Homo sapiens: one gene and its partners. The gene in region 3 interacts genetically with the main gene of each other region. Each region holds a gene or a part of one and is shown on either strand. Other genes may lie near its edges.

Region 1 (3,657 bases), 9.1 Mb from region 3:
ATAAGTACTATGTAGAACAAGAACCATAATGTATATCGAGTTATTAACTAAAATATAGTACCATCCAAGAATTAACTTAAAATAACTGAAATAAGTTTTCAGCATTTTATTTGAGAGCAAGGCAGTTTATGATTGATATTGGTTTTCCTTTTTTTTTTTTTTTTTTTTGATGGAGTTTTGCTCTTATTGCCCAGTCTGGAGTGCAGTGGCATGATCTCGGCTCACCGCAACATCCACCTCCTGGGTTCAAGCAATTCTCCTGCCTCAGCCTCCAGAGTAGCTGGGATTACAGGCGCACACCACCACACCTGGCTAATTTTGTATTTTTTTTAGTAGAGATGGGGTTTCTGCATGTTGGTCAGGCTGGTCTCGAACTCCTGACCTCAAGTGATCTGCCTGCCTTAGCCTCCCAAAGTGCTGGGATTGCTGGGATTACAGGCGTGAGCCACTGCGCCCAGCCTGTTTTTATGTACTTTGTTGAGTGGGAACGAGATGTATAGATGATCCTCTTGAAAGGGGTATAATAGGCATGATGACTCACTCCTGTAATCCCAGCACTTTGGGAGGCCAAGGTGGGAGGATCAGTTGAGCCCAGGAGTAGTTTGAGACCAGCCTGGGCCATATAGTGAGACCCTCATCTCTACAAAAAATTTAAAAATTAGCCAGGTGTGGTGATGGACACCTGTAGTCCCAGCTATTCAGGAGGCTGAAGTGGGAGGATTGCTTGAGCCCAGGAGGTCAAGACTGCAGTAAGCTGTGATCCTGCCATTACACTGCAGCCTGGGTGACAGAGCGAGATGCTGTCTCAAAAAAGGAGTGGGAGTGGTGTATAATAATGTTTCCAGATTGTCCTTTTCTTTCCATTGGGCATAAATCATTTCCCTCTGTTTATCCTAACATTTTAAAATTTTGTATTTTTTCAACATTATCAGTGTCTATTCAGGTGTTGGAAAAGGTTTTTTTTTCCTCTTGACTCCTATTTCAGGAATGTCAGGAACTAAGCATGGTGGGAAATGTTCCTGCTGAATTTCAGAAGGTATATATGAAAAGTGCCAAAAAAATTGAGGGCTGGGTATGGTGGCTCACATCTATAACCCCAACACTTTGAGCAGTTCTCCTGCTTCAGCCTCCCAAGTAGCTGGAATCACAGGCATGCGCTACCATGCCTGGCTAATTTTTTTTATTTTTAGTAGAGACGGTTTCAACATGTTGGCCAGAACTCCTGGCCTCAAGTGATCTGCCCTCCTCAGCCTCCCAAAGTGCTGGGATTACAGGCACAGGCCACCGCGCCCAGCCTGAATATACATATTTTAGAAATAATAGTATTTAAATATTTTTAAATGTTAAGCATTCGTTTAATGTGTTGTAAAATACAATTTTCAATCTTTTTTTCTTAGGGAAAACAATTTAATTAGTATATGGAATAATGGAAAAGGTATTCCTGTTGTTGAACACAAAGTTGAAAAGATGTATGTCCCAGCTCTCATATTTGGACAGCTCCTAACTTCTAGTAACTATGATGATGATGAAAAGAAAGTGACAGGTAGAGTATTGAGGGGAAATAACATATTTGTTGCTAAAAATATATATATTTAAATGACTGTCTGTGGCATGAGGGTTAAAGATATGGAAATAAATCTCTATAATTGAATAGCTCTGCCAGTGATTAAGAAATAAAGCTGTCAATGAGATAGTAACAATAAAATAGTGTTTCATATTTATTTGCCCAGGTGGTCGAAATGGCTATGGAGCCAAATTGTGTAACATATTCAGTACCAAATTTACTGTGGAAACAGCCAGTAGAGAATACAAGAAAATGTTCAAACAGGCAAGTAAATAAGTGTCTTGTACCTTAATGATAAATGGTAGTAGTATAGCCATTTATAATGGCATTAATGATTGGTTTAATTTAACATAATTTATAAGCTATTGAAGTATGGAAAATTATAAGCATATATATTAGGTTATTAGGACTCATAAATTTATGTTATTTACTTCCAGTTTGTGAGATGACTTGAATTTTTCATGTTTCCTATTCTTTACTTCCATAGACATGGATGGATAATATGGGAAGAGCTGGTGAGATGGAACTCAAGCCCTTCAATGGAGAAGATTATACATGTATCACCTTTCAGCCTGATTTGTCTAAGTTTAAAATGCAAAGCCTGGACAAAGATATTGTTGCACTAATGGTCAGAAGAGCATATGATATTGCTGGATCCACCAAAGATGTCAAAGTCTTTCTTAATGGAAATAAACTGCCAGTGAGTATTTTCCTGGATGTTAAGGATAATAAGGGATTTTGTAATCATTGTCAAGTGCAAAATTGAATTTTTTCCCCTCCCATATGTTTTTGTTTGTTTGTTTGTTTGTTTGTTTGAGACAGAGTCTCACACTGTTGCCCGGGCTGGAGTGCAGTGGCACGATCTCGGCTCACCGCAACCTCCACCTCCCAGGTTCACGCAATTCTCCTGCCTCAGCCTCCCAAGTAGCTGGGATTACAGGTGCCTGCCACCACACCTGGCTAATTTTTTGTATTTTTAGTAGAGACAGGTTTCACTATGTTGGCCAGGCTGGTCTCGAACACCAGACCTCATGATCCACCCGTCTTGGCCTCCCAAAGTGCTGGGATTACAGGCATGAGCCACTGCACCTGGCCCAACCATATGTATTTTCTTACCACTTCTCACATATGTTCTTGAAAAGAGAATGGTATGCCACATTTTTTAATCAGCTCATTTTAAACTTACCGAAGGAATTTCTTTCTCAAAGAAACACCTAAAATAAATATTTCATGTCCTTTTTTTATTTTCCTTTTTCTTTCTTTTCTTGATAACCTCGCTGTGTCACCCAGGCTGGAGTACAGTGATGCAATCACGGCTCACTACAGCCTGGACCTCCCAGGCTCAAGCGATCATCCCACCTCAGCTTCTGGAGTAGCTGGAAATGCAGGCAGCACCACCATGCCCAGCTAATTTTTTTTTTTCTTTTTAATAGAGGTGGGGATCTCACTATGTTGCCCAGGGTGGTCTTGAACTCCTGGGCTCAAGTGATCCACCCACCTCGGCCTGTGTCCTTTAATGACCATTCCCTTATGCCTATCAGTGAACATCATTGCATTGGTTTTGGAAAGTCCTCATAGTCTATCATTGAACCTATTTTTTAATAACTTTCTTAATACTGTTACCTTTAATTCCTGTACAGGTAAAAGGATTTCGTAGTTATGTGGACATGTATTTGAAGGACAAGTTGGATGAAACTGGTAACTCCTTGAAAGTAATACATGAACAAGTAAACCACAGGTGGGAAGTGTGTTTAACTATGAGTGAAAAAGGCTTTCAGCAAATTAGCTTTGTCAACAGCATTGCTACATCCAAGGTAATTTTATTCTTAAATTATTAATCATGATTTATCTTTACATATATGTGTTCTTATTGTTTTTAATATATAAAGTGGACTTGAATATTGGGCTAGCTTAGTATAAAGGAGGTTAAATTAGTTTTTAATGTTTGATTATTATAATTTTGAGGATACTGAGTTTTACAGTTTGGTATTTTTCCTTATTAGGGTGGCAGACATGTTGATTATGTAGCTGATCAGATTGTGACTAAACTTGTTGATGTTGTGAAGAAGAAGAACAAGGGTGGTGTTGCAGTA
Region 2 (2,493 bases), about 44 Mb from region 3:
GAGGCGGAGCGGCGCATCCGCGAGTGCGCCAAGCTGCAGCGGAGGCACCACGAACGCATGGAGCGGCGATACCGGCGCGAGCTGGCCGAGCGTTCCGACACCCTCAGCTTCTCCAGCCTCACGTCCAGCACCCTGAGCCGCCGGCTGCAGCATCTGGCGCTGGGCAGCCACCTGCCGTACTCTCAGGCCACGCTGCACGGCACGGCCAGGGGCAAGACCAAGATGCAGAAGAAGCTGGAGCGGCGCAAGCAGGGCGGCGAAGGCACCTTCAAGGTCTCCGAGGATGGGCGCAAGAGCGCCCGCTCGCTCTCGGGCCTGCAGCTGGGCAGCGACGTGATGTTCGTGCGCCAGGGCACCTACGCCAATCCCAAGGAGTGGGGCCGAGCCCCGCTCCGGGACATGTTCCTCTCGGACGAGGACAGCGTCTCCCGTGCCACGCTGGCGGCCGAGCCTGCCCACTCGGAGGTCAGCACCGACTCAGGCCACGACTCCCTGTTTACCCGCCCCGGCCTGGGCACCATGGTGTTCCGCAGAAATTACTTGAGCAGTGGGCTGCACGGACTGGGCCGCGAGGATGGGGGTCTGGATGGGGTGGGAGCGCCGCGGGGTCGGCTGCAGAGCTCCCCCAGCCTGGACGATGACAGCCTGGGCAGTGCCAACAGCCTGCAGGACCGCAGCTGTGGGGAGGAGCTGCCCTGGGATGAGCTCGATTTAGGCTTGGACGAGGACCTGGAGCCCGAGACTAGCCCGCTGGAGACCTTCCTGGCCTCTCTGCACATGGAGGACTTTGCCGCCCTCCTGCGGCAGGAGAAGATCGACCTCGAGGCTTTGATGCTGTGCTCTGACCTCGACCTCCGCAGCATCAGCGTCCCACTGGGGCCCCGAAAGAAGATCTTGGGGGCCGTGAGGAGGCGGCGGCAGGCGATGGAGCGCCCGCCGGCCCTGGAGGACACAGAGCTGTGAGTGTCCAGCCTGGCGGGGGGGATGGAGGAGCAGGAGTTGGAAGGCCCCTGGGGAGGGGGTACAGATCTGCCTATTCAGGAGTAGGGGGTGGGGGATACTGTATTTCATAAAATCGAAATGAGGCCATCGATGATAAAAGGCACCCTTATTTTATTTACCACCAGCTCAGAAAAAGAAGTGGCCAATTTAATGATGACCCGAGGCATTCTTATCACAGTGAAAGTGCACCTCGATTCTGGGGACATCGACAAGTGGGGAAATGGGCCTCTTAATGTCAATGAATTTCAACAGTCACAGGAATCACAGCTGGGGTGTTTTTGAGCCCTCCCACCTCCTAGGTGCTGGGTTGTGCCCTTGAACAAGTCCTCTTGCTTAATCCCTCTAAAAGCCTGTGTGCGCTGGACTATATTGGTGGATTATATCGTTCCCATTTTACAGCCAATGAGCAAGTGGAGGCTCAGACAGTTAGAATAGCTCACCTCAAGGTCCTGCTGCTGCTCAGCATGGAGCTAGGCTTGATCCCTGGTCTGCATGGCTTTAGAGCCTGGGGTCAAGGTGGCTGCCATGGGATGCAGGGCGTGCAGTCAGCAGGGCCTCTCAATTGCCCAAGACCTCAGGCAGATTTTTTTTTTTTTTTTTTTGAGACAGTTTCCCTCTTGTCATCCAGGCTGGAGTGCAGTGGCACAATCACTGTAACCTCCACCTCCCGGGTTCAAGCGATTCTCCTGCCTCAGCCTCCTGAGTAGCTGGGATTACAGGAGTGCACCACCATGCCCAGCTAATTTCTGTATTTTTAGTAGAGATGGGGTTTTGCCATGTTGGCCAGGCTGGTCTCGAACTCCTGACCTCAAGTGATCTGCCCACTCTGGCCTCCCAAAGTGCTGGGATTACAGGCGTGAGCCACCGCGCCTGGCCTTAGGGAGATGTTTTACCTACTGTTCCTGAACTTTGCAATCAGGAACGTGGGCAAATGCTCCCAAGAGGGTCAGCAGCAGCCCTGGAGGCAGAGTTCATGTTCCAAAGGCCGTCATAGTTGCCCAAGGCTGCCACCACAATGGTCATGCTGTGGCCAGCCCCTGCCCTGGCCCCTCCCCAATGGCATCCCACAGGCCCAACAAACTTTGTCCTCATTTCCTCTTAGGTATCTATGGCCGTTATCCTGAATGGCTGGGGCAGGGATGGGTGTGGGGAGGCAGGCTGGTTCAGAGTTTTGGGGATGGGGAGGTCACCCATAGGCTGGCGTCCCCCATCCCTGACAATTGGCCTGCCGAGAGATGGGGAGGCTAAGTTGTCCAGATGGCTGCCCTGGGTGAAAATGATGCCTCTGGAGGGCCTCATGTGAGATCTGTTTCTTTCTGTCTCTTCCTCCACAGATAACCGGGGGCTCCTCTCCCCAGACCAAAATGAATTGCAAGTTGCCACAACCTATGGTGGGGTCTCGAGGTCCTCACAGTTGCCAGCCCTGCAGCCCCCTTCCCCAGGAGCAAGGACCAGTTGGGGCGACTCCTTTGAAAGTCTGTCTGCACCTTG
Region 3 (3,657 bases):
GTTCACACAGTAGCTTTCTTTAAAGGCTCACTTAATTTTGTGTTCAATAGTATGACAAGATAAGTAATCCTTTCAATTTGAGAGAAATTATTTTCAGTTGACTGCAGAAAACCACAGAACATTTTAGCTACTACAAATTAACTGGTGCAAGACAGTCAAGCATATAAATAAGAAGATGGTGGAAGATGAAATCACTTTTATTTACAATACAAAATAAATGACTGTCAATTTACATCCCGGTGACTTTTAACATGCTTATTAACTCTGATGCCTAGCATCCAAAGGGCACTAGAATCAATATTAGCTCCCGCTACTGGGCTGTTTTGAAGATGAAAATACCGAGGCAGATGCCCCATTTGCAATGCTCCATTTGCAAATATTCTTTTTTTGAGATGGAGTCTTACTCTGTCGCCCAGGCTGGAGTGCAGTGGCACCACCTTGGCTCACTGCAACCTCCTGGGTTCAAGAGATCTTCCCACCTCAGCCTCCCAGGTCGCTGGAGTTACAAACATGTGCCACCCTGGCTAATTTTTGTATTTTTAGTAGAGACAGGGTGTCACCATGTTGGCCAGGCTGGTCTCGAACTCCTAACCTCAAGTGATCCTCCCAACTCGGCCTCCCAGAGTGCTGGAATTACAAACATGCGCCATTGCACCCGGCCAATTTGCAAATATTCTTAACATATAAATAGCCAACAACTAGATATCGCTGACCACCACTGTCCCAAAACAGTTTTAGAAAAACGGCAATGAGAATTAGGACAGAGGGGTTCTAGTCCCAAAACAGATGTACAAGCATGGGCAAGTTACTTAACTTCTTAGTTCCTTTCTAATTTGCAAAATGGAGGTCTGATTAATAAACTCCATAAGACCTCTTACCTCTAAAATTTTGCTTCTATATTTTTCAGACCCATATCTGTTCCAGGTTCACACTACATCTGGTAGACTGAACTAATAATGTTTAGACCAAGTATCTTTTTACACTTAAAACCATAATCCTGTTCTTTGTACCCACAGTTCAGTTAATTTCACTTCAAGCAAATCTCACTGTATATACACATTCTTTTAAAAACATTCCCCTCTTTTCTCCTAGACCCTTCCCATTTTTATCCAAAGACAAAAGGGACGTAATTTCATACTATTTTATTCTCTCCTCTATTCTCTATGAACTAAAATCCAACCCCAATTAGATCTCCATTTTACAAATTAGAAAGGAACTAAGAAGTAATTTGCCCATGTTCATATATATATACACACACACATGCACACGTGCACACACACACACACACCCCATTAGCACCCCTCCTAACATTTATTAACCTTAATTGGAGTTGGATTTTACATATTTTATGTGTGTACACACACACACACACACACACACACTTTATATATATATATACACATACATTACATATATATGTGTGTATGTAATATATGTATACACACTTTTTTTTGGAGACAGGGTCTTGCTCTGTTGCCCAAGCTGGAGTGCAGTGGCGTGATCTCAGCTCACTGCAACCTCTGCCTCCCAGGCTCAAGCAATCCTCCTACCTCACCTCCCGAGTAGCTGGGATTGTAGGTGCATGCCACCATGCCTAGCTAATTTTTGCCTTTTTTGTAGAGATGGGGTTTTGCAAGTTGCCCAGGCTGTTCTCTAACTCCTGAGCTCAACTGATCCACCTGTCTTGGCCTCCCAAAGTGCTGGGACTACAGGTATGAGCCACCACTCCTGGCCACTAATGGTATATTTTAAAGTAAGATTAGACAGAATAAAAAAACTAGTAAAATTAAGTACCCAAAAGTTTCCTTTAGACTCTCCAACTTCCTTATCTACTATGAATTATACGTATTTTTCATTAAGTGGCATTATTAAGTAAAACTAAGATTACTTTTAGATTATTTCTTCACGTGTGAAATGGGGGGCAGAGAATGCTAACCTTTACCTTAAGGTTATGAAAATTAAAAATAAATGTATAGTGTTTAGCATACGGCCTGGCATGGTAGCTATTAATATTATTACCATGTATTGTTTATGCTCATTCTGTAAGGATGATCATGTATTATTTATCCTTATTCTGTAATTCTACTAGTATTAGGCCAGTACTGTTTTTTTTTTGTTTTTTTTTTTTTGCTATTTTTATGTAAAAAATATGCATTCAAGTTTACATAGTTCTTTATGAGCTGGTAAGGAAATATACTCACAATAAGTTACATTATACAAATTCCTACTTAAGTTATGGACTTCTTGTGATTTTAAAAGAATAGCAACAAGAAAAGATGGAAGAGTACTAAATTTGAGTAATCTAGGAACCTCAAGGCAAAGTTTGCTTACCTTGTCATTGAATATACGGAGACTATCTAAAGTATGCAGGTTTTGTTCAAGAAGTGCGGTACCTGCTGAATACAAGTTGACCTCATCAAGCTGCAGCACAGCCACAGCTACCCAAAAGAGGGCTTTGTGCAGAGGCGAGTCCTGGCAAAGAAGATATGTTTGAGGCTAGTAAGATGAATCATGACATAGTCTCTTTCAAAACACACTGCAGTTAAAAATAAAGCAGCTTATCTTCCTAAATTACCCATGTTTTCTCTTTTGGGGAAGATAAAGATATGAGTAAGCTCTTCACTTTTCCATATGTATAACTAAAGACACTGTTAGCTGGACTGAGAACGTTACTTAGCACCTCCTTTGACTTCTCCCTGTTCTTTGATTTCTAAATCCAGTCACCAAGGTTTGTTGATTCTTCTAGAGTAGTCTCTTTTGTATCTTTTGTCATTTCTTTCTTATTGCTAATGACATTACCACATGCCAACCTTCTTTATTATAAAGGTGGATTCTTTTTACTTCAGTTTCTCCCTACTCCAATCCACTGTGCACACTACCACCAGGAGCTAAGTCCTGCTTTCATCGTATGACTTGTCTGCTTAAAAACTGTACATTTCCAAACTCTTTTGAACAATGCTGAATGTGAGATGAGGTCTATCCAGTCCTCACAACTTTCCCTCTCTCGATTCCTTTGAAAAGCTTCTCCATTACAACTAGAATGTTCTACCCACCTTCCCTCCATTGTCCTGGCATTCTTGTGCAGCTCTCTCCCTTTCTCTCTACCTACATTAACTCCTATGTTTCCCTTTAACTTTATTTTAAACTGTCTTTTCAACTTCTTGTCACTCTTAACCAGTATGGTAATCTCTTGCTGCTCTGAATTAAAAGTATTTATTACTGGCAATCTTTACTTAGCACTGTGATATTAGGGAAAATACATGGACTTTAGAGTCAAATAGTATCACATTAGAATCATGGTTCTTTTATTAGGTATGTGACTTTGGGCAAGTTATTTAGCCCTTCTGAGCTCATTTTCACTTAGAAGATGGGGACCAGAGAACCATTTTGTATAATACAAAATTAGAATGCTTGTAGACAAACCAGGAATATAACAGGTATTATTTCTCTGTTATTTCTCCCAAGTCTGGCATACCTTTGTACTCAAATCACAGAATTAAACCACTTTAGAACTGGATGGTAATACCATGCCATTATCGAATCTTTTTCATTTTATTAATACAAAAACATGATTTCCAGATATCTTAAATATAAAAATGGGATAAGGTCAGACCATCCTAAAACAGTGGCCACTTCATTTTACTCCTTTTAAATATA

Evidence for each region.
Region 1: changes in NF1 (region 3) and TOP2A are lethal when combined (synthetic lethality), as found in Homo sapiens cells (one large-scale study listed by BioGRID).
Region 2: changes in NF1 (region 3) and USH1G together harm fitness more than expected from each alone (negative genetic interaction), as found in Homo sapiens cells (one large-scale study listed by BioGRID).

Annotation. Positions count from the first base shown.
Region 1 is NC_000017.11:40,411,366-40,415,022, reverse strand, and holds part of TOP2A (DNA topoisomerase 2-alpha), read left to right. Parts: intron 1-1,397; coding exon 1,398-1,543; intron 1,544-1,730; coding exon 1,731-1,828; intron 1,829-2,051; coding exon 2,052-2,264; intron 2,265-3,204; coding exon 3,205-3,378; intron 3,379-3,567; coding exon 3,568-3,657. UniProt on the Homo sapiens protein: Key decatenating enzyme that alters DNA topology by binding to two double-stranded DNA molecules, generating a double-stranded break in one of the strands, passing the intact strand through the broken strand, and religating the broken strand.
Region 2 is NC_000017.11:74,917,920-74,920,412, reverse strand, and holds part of USH1G (pre-mRNA splicing regulator USH1G), read left to right. Parts: coding exon 1-959; intron 960-2,336; coding exon 2,337-2,340; 3' UTR 2,341-2,493. UniProt on the Homo sapiens protein: Plays a role in pre-mRNA splicing by regulating the release and transfer of U4/U6.U5 tri-small nuclear ribonucleoprotein (tri-snRNP) complexes from their assembly site in Cajal bodies to nuclear speckles, thereby contributing to the assembly of the pre-catalytic spliceosome on target pre-mRNAs.
Region 3 is NC_000017.11:31,339,320-31,342,976, reverse strand, and holds part of NF1 (neurofibromin), read right to left. Parts: intron 2,473-3,657; coding exon 2,332-2,472; intron 1-2,331. UniProt on the Homo sapiens protein: Stimulates the GTPase activity of Ras. NF1 shows greater affinity for Ras GAP, but lower specific activity. May be a regulator of Ras activity.